2 linked regions of the Homo sapiens genome follow. The protein of the gene in region 1 purifies or fractionates together with the protein of each later gene. This does not show direct contact. Each region holds a gene or a part of one and is shown in the gene's direction. Other genes may lie near its edges.

Region 1 (3,653 bases):
AAAGTAAATTAATAATTTTATAATTATTTTAACCATTATAAAATAATTTAATGATAATTAGCATATTTTGATTATTTTTCTTGTCTCATATACTTCTGTTTTATTAAAATTGCTGCTACATACATATTTTGCTACATAAAGATTCATAGCTCTTCACTGAAAATCAAAATCTTTAACATATAAAGTACCCATTGTGTGTCATTTAATAATCTTGGTTCTGATGTCCAACTTATGGGATATTAAAATTATTATCTTTGGTTTTCTTTTGAATTTGCTTGGTATAATTTTATGCTGTCTTTTATTTTTAATCTGTCTGAAACACTTTTAGGTTTGTCTCCTGTATATAACAGAGCTGAATTTTCTCCAATTAAAAGCTGTTTTTCTTTCATTAGGAGTTTACATTTATTGATGTGAGTGATACTTATAGACTTGGTTTTATCATATTATTTCATATTTTGTTATATATGTATGTGTATATTTATTTTCTATTAAAAATATATGGTGGTATTTAGGAAGGTTCAAAATTTGTTTCTAGTGGTGACCTATATACATTTAAATTTATATAATATCATTATTCCTCTTTATCTTTAGACAGTTTAAATTGGTTCCTTGTTATAAACAACAATAAACTTATCTTGTATTCTTACCCCTCCTTCACCCCTTCTATCTTCCCTACCAGTAAATTTGTATCATTTGTATTATCTTAGTGTTTATTTTGTATTTAACATTAATGTGAAATATTCATATGTGTCTATGGTTGCTTTCATTCTCAACTTTGCAAATGATCAGGCAATAAGGGAATTTATTTTACCCTCTCTTCCCTGTCTCTATTTTTTCTTAGTTATACTATTTCAGTGCTGTCTGAGCATATAACATTTATATTTCCTTCAGTCACACTTAAAATCACATTTGTTTTTTCTTAGATCTGCATGTACAATGTTTGCTACCATTTTTGTTTATTTTGGCTAAAGTTGCCATTGTCATCTCTTGGTTGGCTGTAGTTTGTCCTATGGTGGTTTCCAAAAAAAAGTCCCAAGTGAAAATTATTCTTTGAGTTCTTGCAGGTTCAGATAATATATCTGAGGCATTGATACCTAGAAGATAATGGGGCTTGATATAGTCCTTGGCTCATCCTTTCTTTTCTTGGATGTCTTATAGGTACTGCTGCACTATCTTTTGCTAGTGAATACTACTGATCTGAAATTTCTTCTCATATGGCTTGATCTTTGTTTGACTATCTAAATTATTATTCTTTATCTTTGAAACCTAATACTTTTACTCTTAGTTGTTTTGGTAGAAATCACTTGGTTTAATTTTTTGCTACTATGTGATGTGCAATTTTAATATGTAGATTGACGTATTGTTTTATTTTAGTAACATTTACTTGAAATATATATATTTTTTGAGTCAAGGTCTCACTCCCTTTGCCCAGGCTGGAGTGCAGTGGCACGATCATAGCTCACTGCAGCCTCAACTTCCTGGGCTCAAGCAATCCTCCCACCTCAGCCTCTCAAGTAGCTGGGACTACAGGAGAGCAGCACCATGCCCAGCTGATTTTTGTATTTTTAATAGAGATGGGGTTTTGTCATATTGGCCAGGCTGGTCTTGAACTCCTGGTCTCAAAGAATTCACCTGCCTCAGCGTCCCAAAGTACTGGTATTACAGGAGTAAGCCACCACACCTGGCCTGAAACAAATTTTTAAAAAGCTATTTTGTTCTACTTGGATTCCTTCTTTAGGTTATCCAATTAAGCCTATGTTGATTCTCTTTTGCTTGTTACCTATATCTATTAGTTTTCTCTTATCTTTTCCGTTTGTTTCATTTTTGTTGATTTTCTCATTTTTATCCTCTGTTTTCCTTATTGTGTATGGCTTCCATAAGGGAAAGTGAAAAGAATCAGAACTAAGATGCTGTTGAAACACTAAGGTGTTCCCATTGAAACAACCAGAAACAATATTTTGCACTTAGTCTCTGGGCTAGGTTGGAAAAACTACATTTTAAAGAAATTTTAAAGTAAAGAAATACTTAATTGTAGTTGTAGTTGAGATATATTTTCTTGAAGTTATTATTCAATAAATTCCACAGGCTCTTAGATTGCTGAAGGTGACATTTGCTTTAGTGTTCTATCACATTGTAAGTTTATTCCTTGATGATGCTACAATTTGATATCATTGATGATTATCAATATCCTTGATGATGCTACAATTTGTAATCATTCATATCTTTTGTTTTTTTCTGTTAGCATAAGATAGAGGGCAGGAAGACGAACTGAGGAAAGAGTAGGACATATCAAGAGCCGTAAAAATGGAAGTGGTGAACTGAAAGCTAATGATGTATGGGAATAAGACACCCACCTGGAAGTCAGAGGAAGCTTCAAGCCAAAGATGGGGAGATTGTGGACTCAGTAATCTAGCTGGTACTCTCACCCAGAGACAACCACAGAACACGCTGAAGCCAGCCTTTTATTGTTGTGCTTGAGCTCTGGATGAACTGCATTCCTGATCCCTAGTAGATGCTCAGTAACAGATTAAGGAATGAGGGTCCAAAGGAAAAAACACACGCATCTCATTGCAGTAATGAAATTTTACTGAATGGAGTGCTTAATGGGAAATGATATCCAAGAACATATGATTTCCTTATTTTAATATTGAGTAACAATTCTATTTGCTCAGACCTCTTTAATTTAATTTAGGGTAGGAGGAATTCCATTAAAATCTTTGATCTATCTTATTCAGATTTTTCTTAATTGGCTCAACCACTAGTCGTTGTGAAGTCCAAGATAGAGGAGTTGGCTGGAGTCATCCTCTCCCACAATGTGAAAGTAAGTAAAGACTCTTCTGACTTGACTATCAATTTAAACTCTGTTAGGTAATAAAGTCCCTGTGCATCTTTACAGGTATGTGTACCTTCCATTAGAATTTGCATGAATTTTAGATTTATCATGATGCCTTCGCTGAGTATTTCTTTCTCTTCACTCACTTACCTCAGTTGTCAAGTGTAAGCCTCCTCCAGACATCAGGAATGGAAGGCACAGCGGTGAAGAAAATTTCTACGCATACGGCTTTTCTGTCACCTACAGCTGTGACCCCCGCTTCTCACTCTTGGGCCATGCCTCCATTTCTTGCACTGTGGAGAATGAAACAATAGGTGTTTGGAGACCAAGCCCTCCTACCTGTGAAAGTAAGTCATAATGATGAATTCTGCATCAAAATGTTTGCTCTCTTTTGTTTAAAAGAGAAAGAAAGGTAAATTTATTGGGGGGCAAATGGAAAATTCAAAGATAAACTAACTATCGCTCTGATGCAATCATTTATTTGGCCACCTGATACTTATTGCATGTTTGTTTAGAATATAAAAGCCATAAAAATGGGAGTGGTGAACTGGGAGCTAACAGTATATGGGAACAAACAGCAACAACATCTCACTGGTTTGGTGAAGTAAAAGTTTATTCTCATTTACACTGAGTTTGTTCCATGTCCAGGAGACTCTCCAGGGCAGCCGTAGTCTGTGTTAGCTTAGCAACTAGCTCAGCAAGCCAGGTTGCTTTGATCTTATGGCACCTCCATTTCAAAATGTGCCTTCACAGTCTCTTCAGTAGACGAAGAGAGAAAGGCCAATTGTGTCCTGGCTAAGAGCTTTGGCCTGGAAGCAAC
Region 2 (3,753 bases), on another chromosome or scaffold:
TTTTACAGAAAACTTAAGTACCGCTCAGAGAAGGGAAGCTCCTGGGGGACTGGGAGGACTTTGCACCTTGGCTAAAGTGGAGAGTTTGCAATAAGGACACCATTCAGTCTAATACGGGCTTCTGGGGGATTTCGGGAAATGTGCAGATGAATGACTTCTTAGTTTTCTTAACACAGAGTTTGTGTGTTTCTGAGCTGTCACCAGGGTGAGATAAAAGCTTAGGGGAAACCAGATTCAGGAGTAGAACACAGGCCCTTTAGAGAGACAGCTCAGCTGTGTCTCTGGGGGATAACAGCAATCTTCGCAGGGAATCATAGAGACCAGAATGGTGAAGCTGTGGGCACAATAAATGTCTTGCTTAACGTCACATTGATTTTCCTGAAATTGATCAAATGGAACTTTTATGAATTGAAGCCTGTATCTGTTTATTAAGGAGACATTTACAGAACGTACACACAGAGCAAAGTATGGCGCCAGGGCCCTAGGTGAACTTCTTGGAAGTTTGTAAGTTTGCATTTTTATACACTGGGGATTTCAAGTAACAAAATTTAAAAAGAGAAGCTTATTTTAGGAAATCTGAAAGTTATTTTCAATGGCAGCCCCTCACCTCTACTTCCTAGCTACCTTCCTTTCTTTTCCTCCATAATTTTTTTTTTTTTTTTGAGACGGAGTCTGTGGCCCAGGCTAGAGTGCAGTGGCATCTCGGCTCCCTGCAGCCTCCACCTCCCGGGTTACAGCGATTCTCCTACCTCAGCCTCCCGAGTAGCTGCGATTACAGGCACGCGCCACCACGCCTGGCTAATTTTTGTATTTTTAGTAGAGTCGGGGTTTCTCCATGTTGGCCAGGCTGGTCTCCAACTCCGGACCTCAGGTGATCTGCCCTCCTCGGCCTCCCAAAGTGCTGGGAGCCACTGCACTAGGGCCGGTCCATAATATCTTTATCATCTTGTATAGTGTGTATTTTACACCATATTCGCCCTCACAAGAAAATAAACTGCCAAGGCGGGCGGGGGGGTGGGGGGTTCTTTTTGTTCACTGCTGTATCTTAAATAGGGAGAGGTGCTAAATCTTTGTTGAAAAAAAATAAATGACTGTCGGGAAAGATTTTTAAAAATTACTTATAATCCCATCACCGAAATAGGACTACTTAACATTTGTGTTTCTTTCGCCTTTGAGAGAGGAAGAGCAGTTACTTCGCTTTCGTGATCAGTCTGTTCTACAGCTGGATCTTCCTTTTTAAAATGGCTAAAAACGCTATTTTTGGCTGTATAGTACCCAATCATGCAGGCGGCAGGGAGGGGCTCGCTTTGGCCCTCTTCAGCACGTCACACCCTACCTTTAATCCGCAGCCAACTGTGTGGCGGTCCCCACTTTCGCCTAGCGGCAACTCCCTCCTCCCTGCAATCCTTCCTTCTTATTCCGGTTTCCAGAGCACGTCTCCAGGCTTCGACGTCACCACGCTGGGACGTATGTGCCGAGGGCCGCGGCGTCTGACCTCATGGCGTAGAGCCTAGCAACAGCGCAGGCTCCCAGCCGAGTCCGTTATGGCCGCTGCCGTCCCGAAGAGGATGAGGGGGCCAGCACAAGCGAAACTGCTGCCCGGGTCGGCCATCCAAGCCCTTGTGGGGTTGGCGCGGCCGCTGGTCTTGGCGCTCCTGCTTGTGTCCGCCGCTCTATCCAGTGGTAAAGGGGGGCGGCAGTGTGGGCTTAGGAAGGCTAGGAGGGCTCGGGCGCAGGGCAGGAGACAGGCCGGGCCAGGGAAAGGGCGCTTCCAAGTGTCAGGAGCAGACGGCGGTGTCTGGTTGGGTCAGGGTCTCCGCGGGCCTGAGGACGGAGGGTATGGTGTCTGAAGGGGTCCAAGGTGGTAGGGTCTCCAAGGGGCCTGAGAAGCGGGGTCCCTGAGAGATGCAGGAACCCAGGGAGCAGGCAGCAGGGTGTGTAGATGGGCGGGGAGGGAGGAGTGGTGTTAGCGCCTAGAGATCGTTGAAGAATGGGCTGCCGCAAGGAATGGCGGTGGTGGGGTCTCCAAAATTTCTTGGATCGGAAAGTTAGGAGACTCTGGAAGAGAGGGTGGCGACAGGGGCTGAGGAGGTGGCCGGGGCTGGGGGTGTGGTGTCTGGAAAGGGTCCTGAGTTTGGGGGACTCAGGAATCTTGCAGGACCAAGGAAAGGTGGGGGTTTTCCAGAATGGGAGAGGTCAGTGGTAAAGACCGAGGCGGGCAGGGGCAGTAATCCAGTGACTGGACTGAACCAATGGAATATTTCCGAGAGGGAAAGTGAAAGGGAAAGAGCTGTCTTAGGGTACTGGTGCATATTTGAAGACTGGGAGGTTCTGGTGTTTGATAAAGATTCAGAGTACTGGGGCGTTGGGCCCCTGAAGGCTTGGGAGGCAGAGAGGAGTTTGGAGACAAGGGAGATCATGATTCCTCTTCCCTGTGTTCCGAGTTAACCAGGATAACCCTGCCTCGTTTTAATGCATCTGTAGGATTTGATTGATAAAATATTTCATTTCTTGCAAATGTTGCATGGTGAAATCAAGAGATTGAAGGCTTTTATTGAGAAATTAGGAAATCTGTAAACCAGTGCCTGATACTTGGTGGGAAAAATCCACTATTAAGAACTTGTAAGGATTAAACGGTATTTTGTTTAGTAGTCCCATTTTTCTTTCAGGCCAAGACACAGTCCTGCGTTTCTCCCTAAATTTGAATTTTCAGCTGCAAAACAGTGTGACCTGGTATAGTGTTTTCTTTCTTGCCAGCAGGGCCTGTCCAGCCCTACATTCCTCTGCGACAGTACTGTGGGTACATACTTATGTTTCCTCAGCAACATTTCAGTGTTGCTAACTGGACGCCCTCCCAGAAGTCTTTGCAGTCCCTGAGGAAGGACTGCTGTCCATTTCCTAAGGCCCTTTTATCATTAGTGAAATGTAATGAGGATTTCCCTGGTTGATGCAGATATTCCCGTTCCTAAAGTACTTAAGTAGCTTAATTGTTTTGGCCATTTAATCATCTAAGAAAAATAAAACACAAACATTTATATTTCCTGCTGGAATGCTTAAGGGATATATATCTGGCAACTGTAGTTTCAGAAACAGCTTTTTTCCCCTAAGAGATGGTTGAAAATTGGGCAAGAAGTGAGGCAGAATGTGGACTGTTAAGTGTCCTTTAGTCTCTGCTTTTATTTGTTAGAGCCCTATAAATATTTTTCTAACTATACTGAGACATTTTAGAGAATCTTTATCTTTTAAATTAAGTCTTTACATACACCAGTTTAAAATGTCATAAATTCAGATTATTCTGTCCTGAAAAGAAGCTAAATGAAAACGAACATACATGTCTTTAATAGGCGAGCAGCTCCACTGCACTACAGTGTAGCTTGGGATATAAGTATTTTTTGTAAGCATACCTTATAATTTCAAAGTAGTCACTCCTGTAATAAGAAAATTAGTCTAGAATGTGTTGAGTTCCAAATTTCAAGTGAGTTTACAAAGGTAGAAGGTTACCACATTAGATTTATTTAAATTTGTTCCATATTAGGTTTTAAAAACTGTCAATGCTTGGTTATATGCTCGTCAGTCTGTAAGAATTTTTGTTTTATGTTTTTGTTTTGATCAAGTCTAAAAAATTAACATAAGCAGTTTGGATCACTGGGTGACTAATTCTTGGTCATGCCATTTCAAAAATGCCTGGTTCTCTACATTTGCCATTATATTGTCCCCAAATGATCACCTAAACTTAATGTATAATGCATTTCA

What was found. Proteins that work in one complex are often made in the same cells at the same time.
Region 2: the proteins of C4BPA (region 1) and C5orf15 purify together in Homo sapiens (affinity purification with mass spectrometry; one large-scale study listed by BioGRID and IntAct). This does not show direct contact.

Annotation. Positions count from the first base shown.
Region 1 is NC_000001.11:207,121,187-207,124,839, forward strand, and holds part of C4BPA (C4b-binding protein alpha chain precursor), read left to right. Parts: intron 1-2,735; coding exon 2,736-2,821; intron 2,822-2,988; coding exon 2,989-3,180; intron 3,181-3,653. UniProt on the Homo sapiens protein: Controls the classical pathway of complement activation. It binds as a cofactor to C3b/C4b inactivator (C3bINA), which then hydrolyzes the complement fragment C4b.
Region 2 is NC_000005.10:133,966,376-133,970,128, reverse strand, and holds the start of C5orf15 (keratinocyte-associated transmembrane protein 2 precursor), read left to right. Parts: upstream 1-1,503; 5' UTR 1,504-1,544; coding exon 1,545-1,683; intron 1,684-3,753.